4 linked regions of the Homo sapiens genome follow. The protein of the gene in region 3 interacts with the protein of the main gene of each other region in a biochemical or structural test. Each region holds a gene or a part of one and is shown on either strand. Other genes may lie near its edges. The genes, in order: RANBP9, C1D, THRB and ANP32A.

Region 1 (7,796 bases), on a different chromosome or scaffold from region 3:
CACACACACACAGTCTACAGTAACAAGACAAGAGGAAGAGGCAGTAGAAAGGGAAAAAGACTTTCTGACAAGGGGTAAGAGAGAGACAAAGGAAAGATAGAAGAGAGGAAAAATAAAAGGATAACAACAAAATCTGTTCTTCCAGAAATAATGATTTATGTTTATAAAACAGTTATGTTCCCAGAAAGTGAACCTTAGTATTACACAACAGAAAGTAATAAAGAGGCCAAGAATAAAAACAACTGAGACAGCAGTGTCAGAAATATTCCAAACTCCAACTAATTTCATATAAACGTGTATTTTTCTCTGACCTAATCATCAATTTTATGTAAAAGACTAAAACTAATCAAGACACCTTACAGTACTAAATAAACAGTAATCACGAATCTTAGACATCACGGAAATTCAGAGCTGGAAATTTCCTTACCAATCGTCCAGCTCAACTTACACACCACTCAGAGGAAGAAACTGAGGCTCAGTCTTGTAAAATATCTACAACCACAAACAACTGCAGAACTCAGGAAATCTAGAATTCTTTGTTCATCTACACTGGCTCTGACTTTATGAGCAAATTATTTACTGTCAACCATAAATTTAAAATTATAAAATTCTGTCACATCTAACAATAGCTTTCTGGCAGCCAGATCAGAAGTAAACACCTCATAACATAGCACCGTTCACACAAATTAAAACATAAAAGTAGAAATACTTCACAAGGAAATTAACAAAAGGTCCTAACTTGAGAAAAAACAAAGATTTGATATTGTGAATGAAACGTTCAGACGTTTAGATTAAGGAGGATAACACTTGGAAGTACTTCTTTGGATGTATGGCGAGAATAAAAAGAATGTTCAACAAGGCCTATTTTTGTGCGTGATTCTTTGCAGCCAAATCATTTGGTAGATTTCTATTGCCATTCGCCTTTCTGATTAAATAGTAACTTACTTATCAAGCTTCTTCTCAAATTTCAGTCCCGTATAAGTTAAGAATTTAACCACAAGGTTGTTTATCTCCTCTACATACATGTCACTAGGATCTGAGTAGACCCCTTTACAGCCAATCAAAGTGAGGCTGCCGTGAATGTAAAAGCTTCTGCTTTAGGTTTGGGGCCTAAAACCCTGGATTTGTTTCCAGACAAGACTGATACGTTAGGTTGATTTTTTTTTCTTCCACACAAGTAAACTTGATACATGCTATTAAATTGGGCTACATTTCAATAGTTCCCATAGCAATTCATAATTTTATATACAACTGATTTGCTTCCAGCTTTGTTTTAACCTAGGAGAGGTAGGTGAGGGAGGAAAGGGGCAAGCACAAGCCTAAGGTTGTTGTTTTTAACTGCAAGTGCAAAACATAAGCCAATTTTCTTCAAAATACTAAGCTGCATTTTGTTCCATCTTCGTTTTCAACAAGACTTCATGTGATATCAACACCTAAGGACCTGTATAGGGCACTTCCAATCGGGAGGGGTAGGTTTCTGCTCCCCTAAGAAAAAGGGTGTTCCTGGGGTTCCCTTCTCTTACCCTCCCGGTTGCTTTTACTAAAATATATTGATGGCAAACTTGGGCCCCTTGTCCTTTTGTCCCCCTAGACAATCTCTGGCCTAATTTTGATTACTCCTCCCCCTGTGTATCCCTGCTCTCTCTTAATTAGAAATCATACCTCAGAATCGTGCCTCTCTTCCCCCCTTGTAAGAGGAGAACGCCTGACCCACCACCTGGAGAACAATGTAACCCAACTCCGAGTCCATGGATTCCTCTACCCAAGCCCCAAGATTTATCTCCCAGGGAAATCAGAAAGCCAGTTCTGTCCTGTCATCCCGGATTCCCTCAAGGTGTCCTGCTCCTGGTCTAGGATTACCAGCTCCTTTCTACCCTGGGGCATTCTACTCACCTTCCTTTTCCAAGAATCTCGCCCCTCACCCTCGGACCCTTCACCGCGACCCCCGCGCCCACCCGGAGCAGCACAACAGGCGGCGAGTGGCCTCCGAGGGCAGAGCCCGCGAGGGCGGGGGTCGGGGGCGGGTCGAGAGCGGCGCAGCGGCGGCCGGCCACGTCGGGTCAGTGCCCCACTCCCACCGCAGGACACACGCCCAGTACCTTTGTAGTGCACCCGCAGGTTGTTCTGAGAGAGGCCGATGTAGCTGAACTTGTCCTTCGGGCTCCAGGACCGAGGCAGCGGCGTCTCTTGTTCGTCCACGGCCGGGTAGAGACGCTTCAGCCGCCGCTGCAACTCCTTCTCCTGCTCGTTCAGGGCCGAGTCCCCGTGAGGGAAGGGGGCCGCGGCGCTGCTGCCCGCCACCAGAGCTGGGGTCGGGGCTCCTCCAGCCGGGCCGGGGCCCGCTGCAAGGCCCGGGGGAGCGGGCGGCCCGCTGGCGGGGGCAGCCGCTGAGGCAGGGGGAGGCGGGGGCGGCGGCGGGGGCGGCGGGGCCGCGGTGGCCGGGGGCGGCGGCGGCGGAGGGTGGAGGAGCAGGGCGGCCGCCGCGGCCCCTAAGCCTTCGCCGCCCGCACCGCCGCCGGGCGAGCCGGCCGGAGAAGAGCCGGCGCTGACGGCCGGGGGCGCCGGCAGGACGACTCCGGAGACTGGGGCCAAGGCCGCCGGCGGTGGCGGCGACAGCTGCTGCTGCTGTTGCTGCTGCTGCGGCGGCGGCGGCGGCGGCTGCCCGGACATCCCGGCCGCGACTCAGCCTGCGGCCACCTCCACCTCTTCTCTCCTTCCTCCTCTGCTTCCCGGGGGCGCTGTCGCTGCGGCCGCCGGCACCAGGCGCCCAGTCCGCCCGCCCCGGAAGCAGGCGGCGGGCCGCGCGCCCAGGGAGACCGCGGCGGTTGAGGAGCTCGGAGACGCGGGAGTAGGCGGCGGGCCCGGGAGGCCGGGAGAGAACGTTGGCCGGAGCGCGGGCGCGCGGCCCGGGGACGAGGCGCCGAGGGCGGGGGCGACGCGGGAGCGCGGGAGGGGAAGGCGCGCTGGCGGCCGCCGCGGCCGCTGCTCTCGCGGCTGTTTCCCGGCGGGCGGGCCGGGCCGGCGCGAGACGCTGCGCGCGGGCGGCGCTAGGCGAGGGGGCGGGACGGAGGCGCGAGAGAGGCGCGAGCGGTGCGAGGGGGCGGGCCGCGGGGCTCCCGGCTGTGCGCCGCGAGGCGTCCTCCCGGGCCCGCCAGTCGCTCGTGGGCAGGATCGCTGGGCTCCCGGCGCCGCAGGTCCCTTCGGAGGTGTCCGCCTCCTCTCCCTTGGCGGCCGCCGTCGCCCCCCTCGCCGGCGAATCCCCTCCCACTTGACTTCTTTTTGTTGTCGTCGCCCCACCTCCCCACCGTAGGGCTCCTCGGAGCCGAGGCGCCGCTTCTCGTCCAGGCGAGAGTAATCGAGCCCCGCTGGGGCCGCCGCGAGCCCAGGCCCCGGGGCGCTCTAGGACCCGTCGGCCCGGGGCGTGCGGAGCGGCTCAGGCTCCCCGCGCAGTGCTGCTAGCTCTCGCCTCAGTCCCGTTCCCGTTTGCCGCCTCCCTCCAAAGAGGAACGCATTGCCTTTGGTACTTCAGTGTTTAATTCCGTAGCATTGACCATATGGGCAGTAGAAACCACTTCTGAAGGCAGTCTCCCACTTAGAATAGTGACTGTTTCATTAATTAATTTTACGAGGACTCACAGTGAACTTAACAGTGGTAGAAGATGTCATTAATAAAGACCGGCATATCTTCAAAAAGCAGGAGCAGGCACTGTATGAATACAAGATTATAGTGTGTGTTTAGGAAGGGCTTCTAGAGACGTCAGAACATTTTATAGACTCGTTAATTTTCATAACAGGGTTCTTAGGTAACAGAAAATTATGCCCATTTTTAAAACAAGGAAATATTTACCGAGATCAGCAGAGTCAAAAATAGGACTTCCTACTTTGCAATTCCCAATAGAATGCTTCGTCGACTAATTTGGCACAACTTGCCAAGTGTTGCTCTCTGACCCATCATAACATTACTACTTTGTTTTCACCACTTCCCTTTGTTTAGCTTATCCCTCCCTAGCTGGCAAAATCAGGCTTTGCATATGTAAATTGTGTGATGTAAATTCTGATATTTTGTTTGCTTCCAAAGATATGATGGTAATCATTTGGTCAAATAAGAAATGTTTTGCCGAAGAGAAAATTATTTCGTTTTGAAGAAGGTAGGCCAAAGGTGATTTAATTTAAGGCCAAGATTATCTGGCCAGAACAAATAACAGAGTCATTCGGCCTAATTTCTCCCTCAGTTACCCAGACAACTAGATGTTCTGTTGTACTTTTATTATTATTATTATTATTGTTTTGTCGCCCAGGCTGGAGTGCAGTTGTGTGGTCTCAGCTCACTACAACTTCCGCCTCCCGGGTTCAAGCGATTCTCCTGCCTCAGCCTCCCAAGTAGCTGGGACTACAGGCATGTGCTCACACCCAGCTAATTTTTGTACTTGTAGTGGAGACGGGGTTTCACCATGTTGGCCAGGCTGGTCTCGAACTCCCGACCTCAAGTGATCTACCCGCCTCAGCCTCCCAAAGTGCTGGGATTACAGGCGTGAGCCACCATGCCTGGCCTCTGTTGTAGTTTGATAGAAATATCCATTAATTTTAACCTGTTGTTTGATGACTTTTTTTAAACCACTGCACTTTGAATCACATGATGTCACTGTATTTACAGTGTTCTAACACTTTCATTTATATTACAGTAACAATGAGTTCAATGTAAGCCAAGCTCTATTTAAATGTACGATAGCCATGTTAGAATAAATGGGCTCCAGACGTCATTAAACTTTCTTGAAACACTTTTGAAGATGTACTTTTTTTCTGTCAGCACACTTAGGAACTATCTAGAACTTTCCGTATCTTAGGAACAGCTGAAGGAATAGAATTGTCTAACATTTTGTTGGAAGCATTTTATAAGGGGGACTGGTGGTTCTCCATCAAGAAATTAATGATTTCAGTTGTGGGGGAGGATGCTGTGAAATGAGTACTTTCTCATATAGAAGGAGATAGAGAACATTGATAACGTCCTTTTGGAAAGCTACATACTTGGTTATATTTATAAGGAGACATAAAGGAGTTCATACCTTTTGACTTATCTATCAAAAAGCCAAACAACACAATCTAAATATGAAAATACTTTAGGCTGAAAAATGTTCCACAAGAAGTATTAATGGTAGATTAAATATAGAAGCAAATCAAATGCCCAACCGGAAGAGACTAGAAGAAATTCTAGTCACATGTGAAATTCTAATCACATACCCCACTCAGTGGAGTTATGCTACAGGAGCACATATAGCACATTCGTGCCATTTTTTTTTAAGGTATCCCTTCTGGGCAGTGGAAGTGCCAAAAGAGGTCAACCAATTAGAAAAAGGCACCCCTTCCTCTTGACTTAGTGGATCCTGGGCCCACCTTCAGACCCACTCTCTCCAGGCTTCTTGCACAGGCACAGCCTGAAACAAATATTTTATGGCCTCTTAAAAATATGTTATTGAAGACATAGAAAAATGATTATGATATGCTAAATGAAAAGAGGCAATACGATAATTATAGCACTGCCAAAATCATTACCAAAAAGACATGAAGGAAAAATTGTAAAATGTTTCCATAATGGACAATTATAATGCATTATTAAAAGTAATGTACTTTTATTATGAAAATAATAGAATTGTACATAGATATGTAAATAGTAAAAATCCATTAGCCATGAACATATCCACACCCTTCTTGAACCTATGTTTTCAGTCTTTACCATGTATTGCTCTAATATTACCCAGTATCTGTATCTGCTGGGTTTCTCAGTATCGAACAATAGGAACCAATTCTGGCTCTCTTAAGCAAAAAAGGAACTTACTGGAAAGATATTAGATGGTTCTCAGAATTGACCAGAAGGCTGGACAAGCAGGCCTGAAAACTGACAATGGCCAAAGGAGGAGAGGCTGCATAAATAGACTGGCCTGGACCCCAGCACTGATCACAGAAATCACTGCCAGATGTCACCTTCAACACCTGGACTCTTATCTCTCTGACCTCCAGCCTTTACACCACTCACTCAAGTTTCAAAGTCACCAAGCCTAGATTGTGTGCCCATGCCAGAATACACCAGCAAGCAGAGATTCCCAGGTTATCCAGTGACTGGGTTACAGAGATGCTACGTTATTGATAACTTCAGCTCAGGGTGGGCCTTGAGTGGTTACAGCCACCAGAACTGGTCCCTTCCAACAGTGAGCAGTCTTGTGCATTCAGAGTACCATACACATCTTATTTTCTGTGCATGGCATAACATGAAAATGTTTAGGACACATTGCCCTAGTGGAAAAGGGCCACTGGTGCCCACAGTAGAGGATTTTCCATACTAGGAAAGATACTAGGAAAGAGGTAAGATGCTGACCAGCCTGTTTCAGTCAATGCCCATGACAGTATCCTTCTGAGTACTGGAAAATGTTATGGCAATGTGTGCCAAGATCTATAGTATGGTTTTAGGGTCTGGATTAGTTATCTATGGCTGCAGAATAAATAATCCTCAAATTTAGTGGCTTAAAATAACGTTTATTATCACACATTTTCTGTGGGTCAGGAATCTGGCACAACTTCACTGGATCCTCTGCTTCAGGGTCTCTCATGAGCATTAAAGGTGTCAGTTGGGGTTGCAGTCATCTCAAGACTTGACTGGGGAAGAATCCACTTTCACACTCACTGATGTGGTTATCACACTCATTGATGCAGTTCCTTGAGGGCTGCTGGACTAAGGGATTCAGTTTCTTGTTGGCTATTGGCCAGAAGTGGCCCATGATGCCTTGCCACATGGGCACCTTCAACATGGCAGCTTGCTTCATGAAAGCATGCAAGCCAAGGCAATCGTGGCAAGACAAAAGTTACAGTGTTTTGTAACCCAACCACGGAAGTGACATCCCATCACTTTTGCCATATGTTTGTTAGAAGTGAGTCATCAGTTTCATCCCATATTCAAGGGGAGGGGATTACACAAGGCTATGAACACAAGAAGGTGAGGATCATTGAAGGCCGTCTTTGGAAACTGACTCATACAGGGTCCTTGTAACTTCCAGTGACCCTGGGGAACTGCACTTGCCACATTCACATCAAATATGGATTCTAGACCAGGGATCAGCAAACTTTTTCTGTAACAGGTTAGATAGTGAATATTTTAGGCTCTGCGGAACATAGTTACCTGTCGCAACTACTCAATTTTGCCATTGTAAATGAAAGTAACCATAGATGATACATAAACAAACGGGCATGGCTGTGATCCCGCAAAACTTTATTTACAAACATAGGGAGCAGCCTGGATTTGCCCTACAGGCTTCAGTTTGTGATTCCTGTTCCAGACTATTACATCAACGTTCCTTATAAACCATTCTCAACACTAAAAATGAAAGCCAAGTCACTAGCAATGAAATCCTAGGAGTCAACAAATTCATTTTATTACCCACAATGCGTGCTGCACTCCAGTGTCCGAGGCAGCCTGATGCCACACGAATGGAGTAAGCATATTTCTGCACGTAGTGTGGCAAATTCAAATGGATGACAAATGGCTGAACAATGTTAGTAAACTATAGCAATAAAGGGTCCAAGTTTGGGAAAGTTCTCAGTCAGCATTTATGAAGCACCTGTTATGTTGGAACCCTGGGTCCTGTCTTCTCTAGGCAGGGAATGAAGAAAAGAGGCAAGACAGATTACAAAGAAAAACAGCAGTATGGAATCTACTTCTTCGGTGAACAGTCTAGTTGGAAAGTGATACGGTTTTGAGAGATGACAGCATGTTGGGAGCCCTCGCTCACTCTGGGTGCCTCCTCGGC
Region 2 (7,209 bases), on a different chromosome or scaffold from region 3:
AACAGACATCAAAAACTTATCATGTCCTTAACTGAACTCCGAATCTTCCCACAAACCTGCCCCTCCCACAGTTTTCTACTTCTCAGTTAATGGCAATTCCCTTCTTCTAGTTGCTCAAGCCCCAAACTTTGACAATAACCTTATTCTTACAATTCACTTTCAATCTGTAAGCAATTCTGTTTGCTTTTCCTAGAAAATACATCTAAAATTAAACTGCTTCTCCACCTTCACTTCTTTCCAGCCAGTTAAGATGTTATCATCTCATCTGAACTACAACACCTCCGTGATTAGTCTCCTGGTTTTCACCTACCCCACCCCACAGCAAACTATTCTTAAACACAGCAGCCAGAGAAGATTCTATTAAAACGTGAGTCAGGCTGGGCGCAGTGACTGACGCCTGTAATCCCAGCACTTTAGAAGGCTGAGACAGGCGGATCACCTGAGGTCAGGGGTTCGAGACCAGCCTGGCCAACATGGTGAAACCCTAACTCTACTAAAAACACAAAAAATTAGCTGGGCATGGCGACGGGTGCCTGTAATCCCAGCTACTCCGGAGGCTGAGGCAGGAGAATCGTTGGAACCCAGGAGGCGGAGGTTGCAGTGAGCCGAGATTGTGCCACTGCACTCCAGCCTGAGCAACAGAGTGAGACTCCAAAAGAAAAGAGGGGCGAGATGGGGTGGGGCAGGGCGGGCAAGGGCAGAGCAGGGCAGGAAAGGAAACAAAAGAAAACAAAAGACAATAAAGTAAAATAAAATAAAATAAAACAAACCTAAGTCAGATCATGTCACTCCTCTCCTCCTACCTTTCCATTGGTTATTTACTCACTGGGCTATTGCTCAAGGGAAGATTCATGTCGAGGCACATTTTGAACTCCACATCACTAACATAATGTCTTGTCATGTATTAGTTAGTTAGCAACTATTTGTTTACTAACTAAAACCAATCAAAGTAACCTAAGACGTAATTTTGGAAACTCTTAATATCAGATTACAGTTTGAGCTTACAGATACTAGAAAGTCACCACATGGATCCAAACAAACATACGATAATGTACATTCCAGGGCTCTTCCCATCTCTACACCAAATAATTATACACAGTTATGAACTAAGCCAAAGAACAAATCCAACATGATTGTTTTTTGGAATTTGAGAGCCATTTGCTGTTGTTGCACCAGAATTCTATTACTGTAATGAATTACTGTAATGACTTTTTCGCACTGCATTATCTTAGGAGAAAATAACAATGAAATGTACACACAAGTTCTCAATAAATATTGCTGTCTTGGGCAAACAGTGACTCCATGTTAGTGTTGTCTGTAACTCTCCTTCAGTCCCACAGTACAATTCCTGAGTAAATATAGACTTCTTCCTTTTCTAAAAAATATATTAACATCTAAAAATAAATTTATCCCAAAGTCTAATAGGAGAGTATATAAATTACGAGGATATTGCTCAAGATTGAGATGAACAATTACATTAAATTAAATTCACTTCTATTCAAAGTTTAATTCAAAGCATTTCCAAAATTACAGCAATCAAGCAGCAAAATTACCTTCCAAAACATATGGAAGTTGATTATTACAATTATCTTATTTCTGAAATAAGAGTATATAGTGTTGTTGCACAGATTAAATAAACTAGATAAAAGCCATTAGAACGGGGCCTGGCTCAGTTAGCACTCAATACATTAGATAGTATTTTACTAAAAGTGAAAATTACCAAATACTCTAATCCAATGTGAACTATTTAGAGCCATGCTTGAAGGGTCAACTTTGGAAACAGTAGCTGAGATAATACATATGAAGAGCCATTTGAAAAGGTAAAAGCAGTTAAGAAAAAAATTACATTACTTTTGAACTGTGATACATACAACACAGCTAACTGAAGGCAGCTGTAGTATCTTTTGACTGAGAATTTTATTTTGAAAAACCGTTATTCACACTTGTCACTATCTTTCAACAAAACAATGAGTTCTATCATTTCCACCAAACACAAACATTTCTCTGTACTTCAATAGGGCTAATCTGTTGTTTTTGAATCAAAAATACAGAGTTAAATAACTAAAAGTATAACTGGATTGTTTGTAACACAAAGGATAAGTGCCTGAAGGGATGGATACCCCATTTTCCATGTGATTCTTACATATTGCATGCCTGTATCAAAACATCTCGTGTACCCCATAAATATATACACCTATGTACCCACAAAATTTTTAAATTTAATTTTTTAAAAAATCACGGTTAAGTCTTGGTTCAGTCCACCATCAGACAGTCCTAATAGGTTAATAAGTGGATAGCAAACATCTCATTGCGACAAATACATCTTTATCAAGCCAAAACTGAACTGTAGTCAGCAAACATTGAGGACATTAAAGCTATTTTGAAACAAGTTTGAGTTACACTGAACTTATCCGGGTCATCAAGAAAAACTGCTCTCTTGGATTACCCACTACAGATTTCAGCTAAAGGTCGAAATTAGCCCACTATCTCAGATGAGCTAATACTGCAGCAGCAGGCAGTCTGTGAATGTGAATGATAAACGGAGCTAACACAGTAAAGTTACTCCCCTAGACGTTCCACTTTAGCCTCTCTCCCTAAGCAAGATTGAAAACAGCTGAAAATTGTGAAGACTTCAATGTTTTTTGATTTTTGTTTTTAATTTCTTCGTCTTCCAAGATTTGAGAAGGGGGTGGTTAACAAACGAAGAAAAAGAGAGAGACCGGAGCAAAAGAGAGAAATGAGGGGCCGGGGTAAGCCAAAGCCTGCAAGCAGCCCCAAAACAAGCGGAAGTGGGGGACCTGCCAACAATGCTGCCCCAACGAAGAGCTGTGAGAGACTGCATTCCTGGAAGGCTACGCAGCCAAACTCCGATTTTCTCAGTCTGCCCAGAGGATGACAGGGGAATCCCAGGAGAGGAAAAGCGGAGTTAAACAGGAGCAGGAGAAAAACTGAAACTACACCTTAGAAAAATACCTCACGGCCTTCGACTCCAGTCTCCCGGAAAGCGGTCGGGCAACGATGACGACAATGACGCGCCGGCTCTGCCCCCGCCACGAGCGGCGCTTCCCGATGATCTCACGCTGCTCGCCACGCCCCCTGCTCCTTAACTCTTCTCCAAAGGCAAATCTCATTTTGAGTAGCTCAGACCCATGTTGTGGGAGACGATTGCGGCGGCACTCGGAACTTTTGTCTACCTTTGTACCCGGCTAACACTCACCCCAAATACAGGTTGAGTGTATTTAACCAGGAAAAAAATCTTAGTTATCGAAACTTTGTTCGGGTTTTTACTTTCCCAGAAGCTTTTTTCAGGGCCCTCATTCTTTCTACCCTTTTATTGTCTGCCTCTAGATGAGCCTCTTAGAGCAGCTTCCCAGATTATCCGTGGGGAAGAACAGGTTCTTTATTAGATTATCCGTGGGGAAGAATGGGTTCTTTATTTTTCCAATCTGTCAGTAAAAGGTACTTCTATAAAATACAGTAAAAATGAATTAGTAGAAAAATGGGGAAAATATGTGCAAAATACAAGCCCAAATTTTTTATTAGTTTCAAATAAATGTAAAATTGCATTTCAATGTATGCAATCAGAACAAACATAATAGAAAATAAAGGCATTAACAGAAACTGTACATACTGTTCATTGAAAGTGTAGTATAAGCGATTGAGCATTGTCTTAACATTTGTAACTTGTCATTCCACGGCTGTAATTTGATAAAAAGTTATGCATGAAACAGTTGTCCGTATATTAAATGCATGTAAAAGCATTTTGAACAAGCACCATGTATGTAATATTTAAAGTTTTGGGGGAGGTTCCAAAGTGGCCGAATAGGAACAGCTCCAGTCTACAGCTCCCAGCATGAGCAACGCAGAAGATGGGTGATTTCTGCATTTCCAACTGAGGTACCGGGTTCATCTCACTGGGGCTTCTCAGACACTGGGTGCAGCCCACAGAGCAGGGCGAGGCATGACCTCACCCGGGAAGCACAAGGGATCAGGGAATTCCCTTTCTTAGCAAAGGGAAGCCATGATAGACGGTACCTGGAAAATTGGGACACTCCCATCCTAATACTGTGCTTTTCCAACGGTCTTAGCAAACGGCACACCAGAAGATTATATCCCGTGACTGGCTCAGAGGGTCCCACGCCCACGGAGCCTGGCTCACTGCTACCACAGCAGTCTGAGATCAAACTGCAAGGCAGCAGCGAGGCTGGGGGAGGGGCGTCTGCCATTGCTGAGGCTTAAGTAGATAAACAAAGTGGCCAGGAAGCTTGAACTGGGTGGAGCCCATCGCAGCTCAAGGAGGCCTGCCTGCCTCTGTAGACCCCACCTCTGGGGGCAAGGCATAGCTGAACAAAAGGCAGCAGAAAGTTCTGCAGACTTAAATGTCCGTCTGACAGCTTTGAAGAGAGTAGTGCTTCTCCCAGCACGGAGTTTGAGATCTGAGAACGGACAGACTGTCTCCTCAAGTGGGTCCCTGACCCCCGAGTAGCCTAACTGGGAGACACCTCCCAGCAGGGGCCAACTGACACCTCATACAGCTGGGTGCCCCTCTGAGATGAAGCTTCCAGAGGAAGGATCAGGCAGCAATATTTGCCATTCTGCAATATTTGCTGTTCTGCAGCCTCCGATGGTGACACCCAGGCAAACAGGGTCTAGAGTGGACCTTCAGCAAACTCCAACAGACCTGCAGCTGAGGGTCCTGACTGTTAGAAGGAAAACTAACAAAAAGAAAAGACATCCACACCAAAAACCCATCTGTACGTCACCATCATCAAAGACCAAAGGTAGATAAAACCACAAAGATGGGGATAAATCAGAGCAGAAAAGCCGAAAATTCTAAAAATCAGAGCGCCTCTTCTCCTCCAAAGGAATGCAGCTCCTCACCAGCAATGGAACAAACCTGGACAGAGAATGACTTTGACAAATTGAGAGAAGAAAGCTTCAGACGACTGGTAATAACAAACTTCTCCGAGCTAAAGGAGGATGTTTGAACCCATTGCAAAGAAGCTAAAAACCTTGAAAAAAGATTAGACGAATGGCTAACTAGAATAAACAGTGTAGAGAAGTCCTTAAATGACTGATGGAACTGAAAATCGTGGCACGAGAAGAACGTGACGCATGCACAAGCTTCAGTAGCCGATTTGATCAAGTGGAAGAAAGAGTATCAGTGATTGAAGATCAAATGAATGAAATGAAGCAAGAAGAGAAGTTTAGAGAAAAAAGAGTAAAAAGAAATGAACAAAGCCTCCAAGAAATATGAGACTTTGTGAAAAGACCAAATCTGCATCTGAATTGTGTACCTGAAAGTGACTGGGAGAATGGAACCAAGTTGGAAAACACTCTTCAGGATATCATCCAGGAGAACTTCCCCAACCTAGTGAAGCTGGCCAACATGCAAATTCAGGAAATACAGAGAACACCACAAAGATACTCGTCGAGAAGAGCAACTCCAAGACACATAATTGTCAGATTCACCAAAGTTGAAATGAAGGAAAAAATGTTAAGGGCAGCCAGAAAGGTCAGGTTACCCACAAAGGGAAGCCCATCATAGTAACAGCTGATCTCTCGGCAGAAACTCTACAAGCCAGAAGAGAGTGGGGGCCAATATTCAACATTCTTAAAGAAAAGAATTTTCAACCCAGAATATCATATCCAGCCAAACTAAGCTTCATAAGTGAAGGAGAAATAAAATCCTTTACAGACAAATATACTGAGAGATTTTGTCACCACCAGGCCTGCCTTACAAGAACTCCTGAAGGAAGCACTAAAGATGGAAAGGAACAACTGGTACCAGCCACTGCAAAAACATGCCAATTGTAAAGGCCATCAATGCTAGGAAGAAACTGCATCAACTAATGAGCGAAATAACCAGCTAACATCATAATGACAGGATCAAATTCACACATAACAATATTAACCTGAAATGTAAATGGGCTAAATGCTCCAATTAAAAGACATAGACTGGCAGATTGGATAAAGAGTCAAGACCCATCAGTGTGCTGTATTCAGGAGACCCAACTCACATTCAGAGACACACATAGGCTAAAATAAAGGGCTGGAGGACGATCTACCAAGCAAATGGAAAACAAAAAAAAGCAGGAGTTGCAATCCTAATCTCTGATAAACCAGACTTTAAACCAACAAAGATCAAAAGAGACAAAGAAGGCCATTACATAATGGTAAATGGATCAATTCAATAGGAAGAGCTAACTATACTACCTATACATGCACCCAATACAGGAGCACCCAGATTCATAAAGCAAGCCCTTAGAGACCTATAAAGAGACTTAGACTCCCACACAATAATAATGGGAGACTTTAACACCCCACTGTCAATATTAGACAGATCAACGAGACAGAAAGTTAACAAGGATATCCAGGAATTGAACTCAGCTCTGCACCAAGCAGACCTAGTAGACATCTACAGAAATCTCCACCCCAAATTAACAGAATATACATTCTTCTCAGCACCACATCACACTTATTCCAAAATTGACCACATATTTAGAAGTAAAGTACTCCTCAGCAAATGTAAAAGAACAGAAATTATAACAAACTGTCTCTCAGGCCACAGTGCAATCAAACTAGAACTCAGGATTAAGAGACTCACTCAAAACCGCTTAACTACATGGAAACAGAACAACCTGCTCCTGAATGACTACTGGGTACATAACAAAATGAAGGCAGAAATAAAGATGTTGTTTGAAACCAATGAGAACAAAGACACAACATACCAGAATCTCTGGGACACATTTAAAGCAGTGTGTAGAGGGAAATTTATAGCACTAAATGCCCACAAGAGAAAGCAGGAAAGATCTAAAATTGACACCCTAACATCACAATTAAAAGAACTAGAGAAGCAAGAGCAAACACATTCAAAAGCTAGCAGAAGGCAAGAAATAACTAAGATCAGAGCAGAACTGAAGGAGATAGAGAAACAAAAAGCCCTTCAAAAAATCAATGAATCCAGGAGCTGGTTTTTGAAAAGATCAACCAAATTGATAGGCCACTAGCAAGACTAATAAAGAAGAGAGAATAATCAAATAGACACAGTAAAAAATGATAAAGGGGATATCACCACCGATCCCACAGAAATACAAACTACCATCAGAGAATACTATAAACACCTCTACACAAATAAACTAGAAAATCTAGAAGAAATGGATAAATTCCTCGACACATACACCCTCCCAAGACTAAACCAGGAAGAAG
Region 3 (7,259 bases):
TTGCTATAACCAGCCATGCCAGCATGTCTACTGCATCTCCAACATGCCCTATGCTTCTACCACAATAAAGGATCAAGTTTTTTCCCCATGGCCAGCTTCATGGGCATGTGATCTGGACAGCTGCATACAACCCATGCTGGGAAGGGCTTGGTGCTTGAGGCCTGGCACTTCATTTAATGCTCTGTTGTCACCGTAATGAAATTCCTAATAATTTTATCTTTGAACTTTTGTTTTGTAAATGAAGGCTGATGGGACAATGGAGCATGTGCATGAACAGAGGAAATACAGATAACATGCATAGCTGCTGCCATTCTTTACTTGTTCCACTCACACATAGCATTCTTGTTGCCCCATAAGCACAGAATCCCTGTGGGCACACAATGTGTGGGAGTTCTGCAAAACTCAAATTGAGTATGAGGTAAGCATGTCACATCAATGACTAAGTGAGGACACTGACAACCCCAAAATGGGGTTTGCCACGCTTTCCATTCCAACCAAAGCCTGATTTGAATGCAAAAAGAAGGTAACAACCAAGGAAACTTTCTCTGTCTTTTCTTATGTTAATACTTCTCTGTAACCACTTAGTTTGAAAATGATGACATAGAAGGAAAGAGAAAGATAAGGCAACCTATAGTTCCTTTTCCTTTCTGGTCTCCTTTATTCAAAAGTAAGCCAAAGGCAGAGTGTTGGTAAAAACGGGCATATATCAAGATATGAAATAAAAAAGTTAGTTTTGTGCTGTGAATTAGAGTGTACTTGAATTAGATAATTTTGACCCTGTCATCTTCCCCAAGAAGCTGTCTTTCCTGAAGGGTTGGAGTTCTTACCCAGCTGCTATGGACCAGAATCACTGGAGCCCTCATAGAAAAAATAAGTTCCAAGAACTAACAATGAACAGACAGAAGCAGAATCTCCAGGGCTAGGTCAGGTGGCTGCACAGCCAGCTTGAGAAGTAGCTGAATAAGCAAAACAATACCAGGGGTTCCAGTCCCAATACTCCCTGGCAAAATGTGGTCCATCTTTGATGGATTGGTTCAAGTGCCACCATTTTCCATGAAATCTTCCCTGATTTTTCCCTCCCCTCACGCCCACGTCTCTAACTCCCTGACCCCAAATCCTTCACTATATATTAATTATCTTTGACATCTAGGACATTCTAACTTGAACTTTGCTTCTCTGAAAAGACTCTGGTAACACTGAGGGCATAGCAGGGCAGGGACTAGGTTTAGGCAAGTGAGGCACTCATCCCTGGTGTGAAATTTAAGGGGATGCCAAAAAAGAAAAAAAAAAAAGCCTCAGTAAATCAGGAGAAATATTTTAATGCACTATTTTAAAAATCAAAATTAATGCAACAATTATTCATGATGAACAATACATCAAAATTTTAAATAAAGGCAGGCTCAGACCCTGCACTTGTATCACTGGCCTCACTCACTTCTGCCCAATCCGAGCCCTATGAGGTTCTGTTTCATTCATTTTCTTACACCAGTAGTTGCTAAATAAATAAATATATGAATGAATTGCTTTCTTGAACTGAGTCATCAGCTTAAAGGTATAGATCCTGGTAATGAGGATGTCTATGGTGAAATATGGGAATGGGTCCTGGAAACAGCCTTGGTGTGCCCTCTCAAGTCAGCTGGAACACATGACCACATAATCTAAAGTTTGAATAAATGTTCTTCCTTCAATCAAGTCATCATGACATTCTCCTCCATTGTCCTACCTTGTGTAAAACCAGAAAAATAAATGACATGATCTCTTGGTAACCCTTCTTTACCATCATCATGCAGCCTGTAGGACAGCCCTCAGAGGTCCTGTTCAAAATGGAACCCTAGTAGTTCACGTTATCATTAACATTGCAGTAAAACTGCCCTCCCCCATTGTTGTAGAACATTGTTACTACCACAGTCTCATGGATTGTTTGAATAATGCCACGCCCTTTATTTATTTCATGCTTTAATTGGCTCATTTCTGAATTTTCTGGGCAAAATGAGATCAGAAAGACAAAGCCCTTGAACAAAGAGAAGCAACAGTTTTTGTTACATTTCATTTTGTCCTCTGTATGTCTCCTTCTTAAATAATTTAGCTCCAAGTTATACTCAGGAAGAGAAAAAAATTAAAAGTTCCAGTAGGCCGAGAAGCCCATGATCCACCGTGTTGAAGGAAGATTTGCTTCACCTCACCACCCCCCAACCCCCTCCCGCCCCCCCGCGGTAATACTAAGCTGTTCACACGCTGTGAAGAAGACCCGAAGACTAGGTTGTCAACTGTTGGGGCCTACCTGCGCCAGACTTCTTCCTCAGTGGCCAGCTTTCTCACCCCCCGTTAGCCACCAGGGGGCCGCCTGCTTGGAACAAGTGGTGTAGACGCCACAGCTTTTCTCCAAACCAACCAAAACATTCCGGGGCAGCTTTGGAGCAAAGCCCAGGAACTTCCCTGCAAAGGAGAACAGCTCTCCAACTACAGAAGCCTGCAAGTCCTATGGTGCAGACTTATTAAGAGTAGAGAAGAAAGCACGGACTTCTCACCGAGGACCAAAGGGAAATGGGGTCTCTGGGGCCTGCAACTTTCTTAAAAGTGCATCAGTGAAACCCTGCTTATCCAGCGGGGTGGTTGTTAATGCTGTCAGCAGGGGTGGGGGGCCTCTCACCCCTTTCCCTGGGACGCTCAGAAGAAGCGAGAATAAAACATACATGTCACTGGCTGGAAATCTAGAGAACCTTCCAATAAATAACCTATACATTGTCAGGCAGCTGAGGATCCATATCGTCATAACTCTATTATACTGCGTGTTACACGAATAGATGTGAATATTAAATTATGATGTCGGAATTATTTTAATACTGTCTATAAGAAATTAATTGTACTCTGTTGTCAAAGTAGTTTTGTTGCAACTATAGTTCCTTATTGACTACCTTTTAGCTGAGTGAGGACTCGGTATTTCCCAAGTATCCTTCTAGCTCAGAAAGCAAGTCTCTTCCTGGTCTCCAGGACTTAAGGTCGGGGGCATTTGAGAGACCTATATTTGCCCGGGAAAGATCTCTTGAAGAGTATACATTATTTTTGTCTTCCTGGTTTTATCTATACATTTCCAGGGCAAAGACAAATTAATAGGGCGGCCGTTCTGGGACCTGAGGAGTGTCTCAGCCCTGTACGCGCCTCTCCCACGATATGCATAATGGCGGTGGGGGCGGGGGTGTCCTCCTTAAGGGCAACCCAGGCACGTCCCAAACTTCCATTCGTGGGGTGGCCGTGGTGGTTAAGAGAGCTGCCAGATGGTCGGACCAGCGGAGGCCCCAAGAAGAGCCAGAGCGCCCTGTATTCCCGACACGCGCCACAAGTGGTTTAGGAGCGGAGGGAGGAGCGCTGCGGCACGGGTCGGGCCGGTCGGGCCGGGCAAAGAAGGCCGAGACGTGCTCCTGGAAGACTCGCCCTCCGGTCCCGGTGTCACTCGTTCCCCATTCTTTCCTCTTCTCCAACTAGAGTAATGACGCCCAAACCCGCACCTATGCGCGCAGGCAATCGGGTGGGTGGACGCGCGGCCACCAAACCCACAGCACCGTCACCAACCCTGGGAGGGCACGGCCGGGATTAGGAGGAGGGGGAGCGCCCACACCTGGGGAGGCAGGTGCGGAGGCGGCCGGCCCGGGGACCTCGAGTGCGTAGGACTCGGGGTCGGGGTCGGGGTCGGCAAGCCGGGCGCTGTGAGCGCGTCGGAGCGCTGGCCCGGAGCCTGGCAGGGGGCGTCTGTACCGGCTGGGCAGCCCGGGGCGGTGGCGATGGCTGGCGGCGGCGGCGGGGTGTGCGCCAGGAGGCCATTTCCTCGCTGCGCCCCTGGCGGAGCCGGGTTTGCCTGCTCTTGGCCGCCGCCGCCACCGCCGCGCAAGTCGGACAGCCGTGAGGGCTGGAGGGGAAACCAGGTCACCGGTTCGCAGACGCGGCGCGGAGCAGGCGCCCCGGGCCCGGAGTAAGACAGCGCCCGGGAAGCGGGCCGGGGCGGGCCGGGCACGCGGGGGACCCGGAGAGGCGGGGACTCTGGTGCCCCAGCCGCAGTAGCTTCCTACGCCTATAAAAGTGGAGAGACCGGGGAGGTGCGGCGCGGCCCTGGCTGCGGCCGCCTCTCTTCGCCCAAGGAGTTGACATTTTGCAGGACTCGCGCGACGCCCAGTCGCCGGCGCTCCCCGGGACCCCGCCGCCGGGAGGAGGGGGCGGAGGAGGGTGGAGACTGCGGGGCTTGGCCAAGGAAGGCGCACATCCTCGGGCGGGCGGCCGTGACGCGGCGGGGATTAACTTTGCATGAATAATGTGAGTGCGCTTGGAAAAGAGACCTCCTGCTCCGCGGGCTCGGGGCAAGAGCCCGCAGGCTACCTTCCCCGGGCAGGGGCGCTCAACCCAACCGGCTCCAGGGCACTGGTAATTTGGCTAGAGGACCGCGCGGAGGCAGCGGGGTGAGAGGAGGAGGGGGCGACAGTTCCAACTGTCCACAGGGTGGGCGGGATGGTGACGGAGCGTCGCAAGAACCCGGAGGGGTGCGGGCGGCTAAGCCGAGCGCGCGCGGGCGGGCAGGCGGGTGAGCGTGGGTGGTGGGGGTGTCATCAGCCTGATTACCTGCCTCCGCGGGGCTTCTGCGCCCCGGATCTGGGAGGAGGTGCCCTCTCGTGTTCGGGCACCGCGCGGCGGCAGGCTGGGAGCTACGGAGTGGACAGTGGTGGAACAGGGTGGCCGGGCTCTGTTCCAATCGCAGCGGCTCTGTTCCTCAAACCCCAAGCCCAGCTGTTGACATGTTCCTTGTGAAATGGAGTTTGGCATCCTCAGCGCCGAACCCAGTGGAAGTTTCCATGATGAGGAAGTTGTGTGACATGGGGGTTCGGAAAAGGTTGGCAGGCCAGGGGGGAGGGTTAAAGGGACTGTGGGTCTCCCATCCCCCCTTTTTCGCCTGCCCCGGAACTCCCGGGCTTGGAAAGGAGAATTATCCTGGATGTTGGCGTGCGCCGTGGCCGGTGCCTGGCGACTGGGCTTCTCTCCGCCTCCTGGGGGCTTGGCGGGGATTTCGCTAGCCTCCTGGGTCGCGCTCCTTCGCTTTGCTTCTCTTGGCGCAGCATCTTCCTCTGGGTCTCCTCGAGTTGGTTGTGATACCAATTGTGCCAACTGTGTGACCTCCACCCCCTCGGAGAAGGACTCATTTGGGGGAATTTTCATTCTTAGTGGATTTTGCCCTTCTTAGCGGCAGTTGTCACTTTGGGGGAGGATTTCCCAATGACCATTGTGGGATTATTATTAGTGTTAATTCTTAAGCCTTCTTATTTATTTTAAGGAGGGGGAGGGAGAAAATGAGATGAATTTTTTTTAAATGTACAAGTTTCCCCAAATGGAAAATTTTAAAAGAAGGATCTAGAAACATAACAATTCATAAAGTGAGTCAAAGAAAGGAAAGAGTTTGCATGAACAGCCAAGTTCAGATTCTCCATTCTCCTTTGTCCACATAAATTTAGAATTTTTGAAGATTCAAACACTGTGTAATCAGTAAATATATTTGAAATACCTTCTTCCTCAGCACATTATTGGTCTTGGGTACTAGTGAGATTCAGTTTTAAAGACCTGTGTGGAAGTTCAAGAAATTAAGCATTCCTTGCACAGTGTATTAATATCAAGCACAGCAGTTTATATAATGATAAATGTATTAGGTAATGTAGACCTGTTGGGCAATCTTCACATTATTTGGCTTTAGTTTAGTATGCTTATTTAAATTGTAAGAATGTATAGCATGCAATGCACTGCAAAGAAATAAAAATTGCATTTTAACGTGTTCATGATTCATTCTGAATATTCAGTGACTGACCTGCTCCCCAATTCACTTCTGCTTAATTCTTTCTAATTCCGAAATCAGTCAGAGGCTAGGAAACAATGAAAAACGTGTTTCAGTGCAAAGTATTTTAAGCAGTTGATGTTTTTAGGATGTTTTCATGCCAGGTGGCTAAGTGTTTTAATTGAGTCAAACAGAAATCCAGTACCAAGTGATTTGTTTGGAGTGTTTTATACAAAGACATTGGTGAACGATCATTTATAATTTGAGCATGTTAAAGAAATACTAACAGAATCTATTTTTACCTGATCTCAGAGGTTTATTATATATTGGAAGTGAGACCATCTGCTAGTAAATACAGTTTGGCTTTATTTTATAGCCAGTGAAAAATAAATAATACTGAGTATAGCTACAGAACTGGTTTTTTAAAGTGAAATAATTCCTGTTGGCATTACAATGCAAAGGTATACTTTTATTGACATTGGAATATTGTTACATAAAGCAACTGACATTATGTAGAGGAATGAATATTCCATGTATCTCCTTTCAGTTTCTTTGTAGTAAATTCTGCCATAATTAGAGATGAATTAAGACAACTTTTTAATCCATTATCTTTGGGAAAGGTGATTTCTTAAAATCGCCTTAAAAGCAGAGAAAGCTGTGGATTCCTTTCCTCTCCTGGGGTTTTTGCAGTTGTTTAAAGCATGAGTTGTGTGGAGCCACAAATGGTATTGCATGTTTCTTTTTTTAGTAAGCCCATCTTTTTGATGGAAATCAGAGTAAAGGTGATTGGTTTCTTCGCCCTGGTCTTCTCATTCTAGTGTAAGATTACGTGTCACCTTCTTAGAAAGCCCTTCCCTGACCACTTGAGCAAAGGCGGTCCCTCATTCCTTTTCAGACCCATCACACTGGTTTTTCTCTTTGTTTGTTTGTTTTGTTCTTCTTTTTCTTTCCTTTATTGTATTTGCAATCTGAATTGTTCATTTCAATTGATGCTTGTTGATCGCCTGTATCCTTGCCTAGAATATCGAATCCATGAGCACAGGACTCTTGACTGCCTCACTCACTCTTATTTTCCAGCATCTAGAACAATACTTGGCACACAGTAGGTGCTGGATAACTCTTTGGTGAATAAATTAATGATTGTGTCCAAATATTATGTTCTCAAAAATACCTGACTACACATCCTAAGTGGGTGCCAGTTGGGCATGCCAAGATCTATTCTGTGTGTGCATGTGTATGTGTGTGTTGCACACATTCCATGCTTATATGGTTCACTCTTTATTTTTCTCTCTCTCTCTTTCTTTTCGAAATAAAAGCTGGTCTTCCATTCTGTGTAGTGACAATGCAAAGAGCTATTTCTGCGAGTTCCTCCTAAGGGCATTTGCCTTGAATACATGGAAATCCTCAGCAGCAGAATTTTTCTGACATGTTACCTTGATCCCTGGAAGACATT
Region 4 (7,736 bases), on a different chromosome or scaffold from region 3:
AGTGCAATGGTGCGATTTTGGCACATGGCAACCTCTGCCTCCCGGGTTCAAGTAAGTCTCCCGCCTCTGCCTCCCGAGTAGCTGGGATTATAGGCACGTGCCACGAAGCCCGGCTTTTTTTTTTTTTTTTTTTTTTTGTATTTTTAGTAGAGATGGCATTTCACCATGTTGGCCAGGCTGGTCTCGAACTCCTGACTTCAGGTGATCCACCCGCCTTGGCCTCCCAAAGTGCTGGGATTACAGGCGTGAGCCACCATACCTGGCTTTTTTTTTTTTTTTTTTTTGAGACGGAGTCTCGTTCTGTCGCCCAGGCTGGAGTGCAATGGAGTGATCTCTGCTCACTGCAAGCTCCGCCTTCCGGGTTCACGCCATTCTCCTGCCTCAGCCTCCCGAGTAGCTGGGACTACAGGCGTGCGCCACCTCACCCGGCTAATTTTTTGTATTTTTAATAGAGACGGGGTTTCACCGTGTTAGCCAGGATGGTCTCCATCTCCTGACCACGTGATCCGCCCACCTCGGCCTCCCAAAGTGCTGGGATTACAGGCATGAGCCACCGCGCCCGGCCTTTTTTTTTTTTTTTTTAATGAGACAGTATCTGGCTATGTTGCCCAGGCTGGAGTGCCGAGGCGTGATCTCTACTCACTGCAATCTCCACCTCCCGGGCTCAAGGGATCCTCCCACCTCAGCCTCTATTGTAGCTGGGACCACAGGTGCACGCCACCATGCCAGGCTAATTTTTTTTTTTTTTTTTCATTTTTGGTAAAGATGGGGTTTCACCATGTTGCCCAGGCTGGTCTCGAACTCCTGAGCTCAAGCTATCTGCCTGCAGCTTCCCAAAGTGTTGGGATTACAGGCGTGAGCCACTGCACCTGAGCCTTTTTTTCCTTTTTAAAAGAAACCAACCATCTTTAAGCGGTTTTTAAGATTTTTACTGTTTTTTGTTTTTAGAGAAACAGGTCTTGCTATGTTGTCCGAGCTGTTCTTGAACTCTTGGGCTCAAGTGATCCTTTCACTTCAGCCTCCCAAGTAGCTGGGCCTACAGGGGAACATCACCATGCCTGGCTTATTAATTTCACTTTAAAAGTCACATATATGACAGTTTTCATCCAACAGGGCTTTTTCTCCCTGACCAATCCATTAATAAGGTAACTATCCAATCATTAAAAAAAAATTCTTTTTCTAAATTATCCAATACTTTATTAAGCAAAATAAAATAATATTTAACTTTTTAGATCCCAGGCTTCAACATTATTTGCTATTCAATGAAAATAAATAAAATGTAGTGGTTTTCACATTTGTTACCACAGATTTCAAAATAATAATCTACATTCCTAAAAACTATTTACATATACAAACAAAAAAGAACATAATTAAGCTGGAGTTTTTCCATGTCATTGTCTTTGGGGTCCAAGCAGCAGAACCATGATGTAGGTAAGAGAGTACTACGGCCGATTGCCAGTGATGTGATTCAAGCTCAAGAACAAAAAGTTGAGCTGTGGGTATATTAGCTTGACTCATAAAAAGGATGCTAACCAAAGGGTCTCCATCTTTAGAGACCAAACAAGGGCAAATGTGCTATTGGTGCAAAAGTAATTGTGGTTTTGCCTTTTTTAAAAAAAATGGTAATTACTTTTGCACCAACCTAATAAAATGGCAATAGTAACGATATGGTTATTTGTAAAACAGTACTCTCCTACACATTTCAAAAGAGCCTAAGGACACTCATTGTTCATGTCTTTGAGAACAAAATAGGCTGCTCATTTATTTGGAATGGTTCTTGATGGAGGATATTCTGGAAGGCGGGAAGATCTTTCCTTCCTGGGCCATCTATCTCTCTAGGGGGTTAAACTTTGAATTGTATCTCATTTATTCTTCTCAGTGTGACTCAAACCTAGTTTCAGAGGTTAGAGACTCTACATCTTTCAAACACAATTCCTGTTGTAGAATTACTCAGTAGATAGGAACTCTTACCTGTTCCCAACTCCGTTTCAAAATTCAGCCAAGATTCCTTGATATGGGATTTCTTTCTATATTTTCTGAAATGCAGTGCCACTTAGAACACTTATTTACTATTATAATATACAATAAAATGTAATTTAAAAAACAACTTTGTAAAATAAGATATTTGTAAGAGCAGTGGTTTTTTTTATATTTGGTCATGTTGTGTGGGGCAAATACAGCTCAGCTTTGGCTTTACTATATTCCTTTTTTAATAATAAAAAAGCAAAATCATATGAAAATTTTCTTACATATAGATCTATTTGTAAAAGCAAAAGAAAATTTATTTCAAGTGTGTAAGGAAAGCGGAAATTACTCAATTGGTTATACATATACTTTTGGATATTTCAATTTCTGTAACGACTGACATCCAGTGAAGCCTTCTTTCAATTTTCTAACATTAATACAAAAGTCATCAAAATGTATAAATGTAAGATGCTTCTAAAAACAACTGTCACATTTAACGTTTTGATTTAGTAATCAGGCCATGATTTTTTCGATTCTAATTTGTTTCTGTACTTTCTCTTTAATGGGGGAGGGGGTGGGCTTCTAAGTCTTCCTCTTGAGTCTTTGTACAATAAAGTGAGCTATTTGCTTCTATTTAGCAAAGCTGGATGGGGCATATCTCTGCATTTGATTGGTTGGTTTTTAAGGGATTACTCCTCTGGAAAGACACTGTCTCATATTGCATTGCTAGCAGCGTGGTCTTAACTGTGGTTAAACTTTTAAATTGAAAATGAACATTTACCATCAAAGAGAACACAAACTTCAGGACTCCTATGTTACACAGATCATACACACCATATTGACCTGTTTTGATAAGAGTTCTGTTTGAATACAATCCTAAACACCATATCCAGAAATAACAACTGTCTCAATGGCATAAATAGGAAATTTGGGGTTCCTCATGTATTACAAAGAAGCCAATAAAACTTAGAATAAATTCCAACTATACAAATAGGCTTCAATAAGATTAACAAAATCTGAGGATGACAGGCAAGTCAACAAGTTAAATAAATTATACTATTTATACCCAGATAAAATAAAACAATGACTTCTAACTTTTATGGTGCATTTCCCACCTAATCAGAGTAAACATCAGACTTCAAATTCCATTTATCATTTTATCTGAAAGAATTTACTGAGTAAAATCCTTAGTTGCAGGGCTTTACACTTGCAATCCATCAGGTTGCAATATTAAAGTTACTACAGCTTCTTCCCCAGTGTAAGCATTCTGTATGTGTTTTATTTACATTGTCACTTTTTATTTCCTCCTCAACTTCGTATGTCTAAGAATGAAACTGGATTGCTATTATGCAACAGTATTTTAACTTTGCAACATACATACTGGCTTATCTCTCCTTTGAACTCCTGTTCCTGAAAAATAAACATATGTATCCAGAAAAACTACCTTGAGGCGTGTGGGGAAGAGTGCAGACATGTAGAAACAAACACTAAAATACAGTCGTGTGGAAAGGTAAGGATGTATCTGTCCTCGTTGACAACAATCCCCGTGGTTTATTAACAGCCACAGGCAGCCAACTTAGTGCCGTAAGTCGGTAACCCAGTGGGCATCGGGGCTTTAAGGTCTCTTAAAACTTAATGTGATTCAAAAATACCCAAGGCAACCACGCCGAAAAACCAGGAGAAAGGGCTCCAGTTAGAGCCTCCTTGGCAACCCAAACCGAACCGAATGACTCAGGTGGACGATTAGAATAAACCGTGCGCCGTTCTCTTTCACTAGGTCTATAAAGCCCAGAAATTATGTTTGGTCCAGAAAACCAGGAGTTATGAGCACCTTCCTTTTCCACCTTTTAATATTCTACATATCTAGCAACGGTTCTTAATCCATGGTCTTCATTCATTTATTGCCTAAACAAGATCTTGGGTGTCTCTTGGTGATCACTTCTTCCAAGCTGACCTAATATGACAGCAAAGTGAAAAGCCTCTTCGTGGGAAGGGTCGCGACCGCGCGGTAAGTCATCCAAAAGTGGAAGCATCTTGCTTTTACTGACTTATGTATACGAGGGTGGCGATGGTGGCGGCCTGACAGGGACGAGGCCGGAGGGGAAGGGGCGCGCGGGCTGCTGGGCAGCCGCGGTGGGGGTGACGGGGGCAGCCACGCTCCCCAGCGCGAGCCGCCGGACCCGGGACCCGACGAGCCCCTCCCGGCATTGCACCCTGACCCCTCTCCTCCTTCCAGGCCTTTCATCTGCCCTCCCGCTGGGCAGCCCGCGGTCCCCGGACCTCAAGCCGCCCGCCTCCTTCCGCAACCCCGTCGCGCCGCCCCGCGAAGCCCTCGGCCGGGCGGGGACCCCGACCCGACCCCTCCGGCCGCGCCCCTCCCCCTCGCAGAACGCACCTGCGGCCCCGCCCCCGGCCGAACGCTGAGGCGGCGGCTGGCTGGCAAGGCCGGGCGGCTCGGCCCTCGAGGCACAGTCACCTTCCCTTCCCCCGCCATTCCGCCCACCCCCCTCACTCAGCCACAGAGCAGCCGCCGCGCTCCTCAGCCGCCCCGAAATCTAAAGGGGTCCGTCTCCGGCACCACTACCAAATGGCCGAGCCTCCCTGGCCGGCTGCGCAGCCCGCCCATTGGTCCCTTCCCCCCCCCGCCGCCACTGCCATTGGCTGTTGCCCGGAGACCCTCGGCGGCGATTGGCTCGGGCCGCTGCCGCTCGTCCATGGGGCCGCAGATCCCGCCTCCACGGCGATCAGGTTAGTGTGCGCCGCGGGTGCTGGGGGCTCGAGAACCGAGCGGAGCTGGTTGAGCCTTCAAAGTCCTAAAACGCGCGGCCGTGGGTTCGGGGTTTATTGATTGAATTCCGCCGGCGCGGGAGCCTCTGCAGAGAGAGAGCGCGAGAGATGGAGATGGGCAGACGGATTCATTTAGAGCTGCGGAACAGGACGCCCTCTGATGTGAGCATTTGCCAAAAATATCTCTGTCGGTCCATTCTCCTACTTTGTGTGTGTGTGTGTGTGTGCGCGCTGGGGGGAGGCACTTTTTTTGGGGGGGGGCGCCCGGGAGGTGCGGGTTTGGGGGTCGGACTGCAAGCGAATTGGCAAGGCTGGGGGGTTGCAATGCCATCCGAGCATGTTCCGGCTGCCGCCGCCGCTGCCCTTGGTGTGTGACTACCTGTGCGTGTGCTCCCGCGTGTGCGAGTGTGGGTGCGAGAGTGTGCGTGCGAGTGTGCACCCATCGGGGGCCGGCGGGCGCACGCGTTTGGGTCGGAGAGAATGAGGCGAAATCACCCTCGGAGATCGCTGCTCCCGTGACTCCGTCTGGGGGGAAGATTAACGAGGGAGGAGGAGGAGAGGGGCTGCCTCCTGGATTTAACAACAAAAAAAGGGGGTTTTACATTTTATAAATGTATCCCCCCTTCCGCCCCCCTCCCGCGCCTCCCCCCTCCCTTTCTCTCGCTCGCTCGCTCGCACACACAATAAGTTTGGGGCTTCGCGAGTCCGGTTTAGTTTCTGATAAATGTGGGCCGAGGCCCCCGGGGAGAGCGCGTGGGGAGGGGGCTGCAGCGGAGTTGGGAATGGCTGGAGTTTAAAGTGCGTCTTCATTTCTTTGCAGTGATGAGGCGAGAGACGGGGGAGCCATATTTGTAACTTTGTAGTGTTCGTGAACGCGCCCTTTCTCTCCCTCCCTCCCTTTCTCTGCCTCCCTTCCTCTCCTCCTCTTTCTCCCTCACTCTTTCCACCCCACCTTCGGGCCAGATGCTGATGTTTCTTCCTTTCCTTCCGAAGGGAGGATAAATTAGAAGGAGGGGGAGGGATTTTCGAACGTGCTAAGGCACAGATAATCCCCGCGTCTCCCTGCCTCCAGCGATCGCTGGTGCAAGTTGCCCAAAGGCTACGTCCCGGTGCCCCCTCGCCCCAGCTCCTTCCGGCTTCCCCAAGATGCCAGCCTTTGGGCCCTGGTGCCCCCCAGCTCGAACCCCCGGCCCGTCTTTCTCAGTGCTGGGCTTGTCGGCAGCCATTCGGCGCCTGCTTAATAAATGGGCACGGGAAACTTTGTCAGGACGCGAGCTGCCCGGAGCTGGCGCCCGTGGTGGGTACTGGCTGGGTCCACGTTTATGCGGGCATGGCAAACACGCAGCTCTAGGATGGGAGTTTGCCCGCTAGCCGCCGTTATTGATTGGGCAGCGGCGGGAGCACGGCCGGAGGAAACTTACACGGGTGGGAATCGCGAGGCTCGAGCGAAAGCTTACCCCTGAGGAGGGGGAAGGTGAGGGTGGGTGACTCGAACGCTGGTTTTTATTTCTGCCTCCCTCTCGCTTTCAAACCTGAGTGTTTTCGGCGAGTTGGCGGCTCTGGGGCGGAGACCCTGGCCAGCTCCCCTCTTGGCCCCTTGGGGGGACCGGGGACGCGCTGGCGGGAGGACGCCCCCAGTCTCGGTGGCCCGAGCTCCATGGAGTTGGGAGTTTGGGCAGCACCGTGCGCTGGCCTGTCGCCCCTCTAGCCCGTTAAACCCGAATCCCGGCGAAGGCAGGCCTCGCTTCCTCTTTTCCCTAGTTCCTCCCCCAAACCTGAGTGAGACTTTTGAAAACAAGATCCTTTTTGTCTACCCCCTCCCCGCCTTAACGCAGCTGTGGACTGGAGACGTGCGAGTGCCTTATGGCGCGCAGGGCGGGGAGGGGGCGGCCGCGGGAGAGGAGGGGGCGCCGCCGGTGGAGGCCGGAGTTTCCGCGCACTATTTGCGGGCGGTTTGCCTCTCTCCGGCCGCTTTCGTCCCGGCCGGGACCCGGCGCCTAGCGTTTGGGGGCTGGGTGTGGTGATGGGGGAGGGGGCCGGGGCCGCGGTCTTCCCGCGTACTTTCCGGAAGCCCCCTGCGCGGAGGGGGAAGGGCGCCAAGCGCGGGGCCGGGGTCGCCGCGGGTGGGTGCGGGGGCGCGGCTGGCCTGGCGAACCCGACCGACGCTGCCGGCCCCCCGGGAGCAAGCAGGAAAGCGGGTCGAACCGGCTCTTTAAACTTCCACGAGTGTGTGTGTGTGTTGGGGAGGGGAGCGCACCGCGCCGTACTGGGAGCGATTTCTCACGCTTCGCCCCCTCGCCTCCCAGCCTCGCGGCCCACACGCCTGCCCCCTGCCTGGAGGCGGGGTGGGGCGCGGGTGGCGGAGGAGGGGGCACTTTCTGCACATTTGCGGGGGAGGGGGAGAAAGCTAGCGAAAGAGGGACAAAAGGGTTGGGGGAGGAGGAACTGTATTTTTTTAAACGTTCTTAAGACAAATGGCTCCCGGAGCGCGCCCCCTGCGCCCCTCCCCGCCGCGCTGCCCCTGGGCCCCCCACACACCCACCTTCGGCACCTCTCCCAACTGGGCTCCGGGAGCTGGTGGCCATGCCGCGACGCCGAAATAGGACGAGCAGCCATGTTTCCCGGGGCTCGCGCCGCACGCCCCGCCCCTCCTCCCCGGCGCGGGGCGCAGGGCTCGGAATGCGGGCTCCGGGCTCCATGTGGCGCGGGGCGCTGGCAGGCGGGCGGCGGGGGTGCAGTACGCGCGGGGCCGGCCTTGTGGCTTTCTAGGCTGGTTTTGAGTTCCAGGTGTTTTATTTATTTATTTTTATTTATTTATTTTTTTTAACGGCTAGGCCCACTCGGGGCTGAGCCCGAAGGGCGCCGAGGCGTTACTGGGGGGCAGGAGCCGCCTCCAGGGCCCTGCGCGCCTGTGGCACGACTGCCGGGCGCCGGGCTGCCATTTTGTCACCGTGGCTGTTGTCGCTGTGGGGGGCGGGGGGAGC

The links.
Region 1: the proteins of THRB (region 3) and RANBP9 form a complex in vitro, tested with the Homo sapiens proteins (one study listed by BioGRID).
Region 2: the proteins of THRB (region 3) and C1D form a complex in vitro, tested with the Homo sapiens proteins (one study listed by BioGRID).
Region 4: the proteins of THRB (region 3) and ANP32A form a complex in vitro, tested with the Homo sapiens proteins (one study listed by BioGRID).

Annotation. Positions count from the first base shown.
Region 1 is NC_000006.12:13,708,836-13,716,631, forward strand, and holds the start of RANBP9 (ran-binding protein 9), read right to left. Parts: upstream 3,001-7,796; 5' UTR 2,671-3,000; coding exon 2,100-2,670; intron 1-2,099. UniProt on the Homo sapiens protein: May act as scaffolding protein, and as adapter protein to couple membrane receptors to intracellular signaling pathways. Acts as a mediator of cell spreading and actin cytoskeleton rearrangement.
Region 2 is NC_000002.12:68,059,985-68,067,193, forward strand, and holds the start of C1D (nuclear nucleic acid-binding protein C1D), read right to left. Parts: upstream 3,021-7,209; 5' UTR 2,974-3,020; exon of another isoform or gene 2,961-2,973; intron 1-2,960. UniProt on the Homo sapiens protein: Plays a role in the recruitment of the RNA exosome complex to pre-rRNA to mediate the 3'-5' end processing of the 5.8S rRNA; this function may include MPHOSPH6.
Region 3 is NC_000003.12:24,491,841-24,499,099, reverse strand, and holds the start of THRB (thyroid hormone receptor beta), read left to right. Parts: upstream 1-4,249; 5' UTR 4,250-4,448; intron 4,449-4,608; exon of another isoform or gene 4,609-5,013; intron 5,014-7,259.
Region 4 is NC_000015.10:68,817,876-68,825,611, reverse strand, and holds the start of ANP32A (acidic leucine-rich nuclear phosphoprotein 32 family member A), read left to right. Parts: upstream 1-4,716; 5' UTR 4,717-4,860; coding exon 4,861-4,914; intron 4,915-7,736. UniProt on the Homo sapiens protein: Multifunctional protein that is involved in the regulation of many processes including tumor suppression, apoptosis, cell cycle progression or transcription. Promotes apoptosis by favouring the activation of caspase-9/CASP9 and allowing apoptosome formation.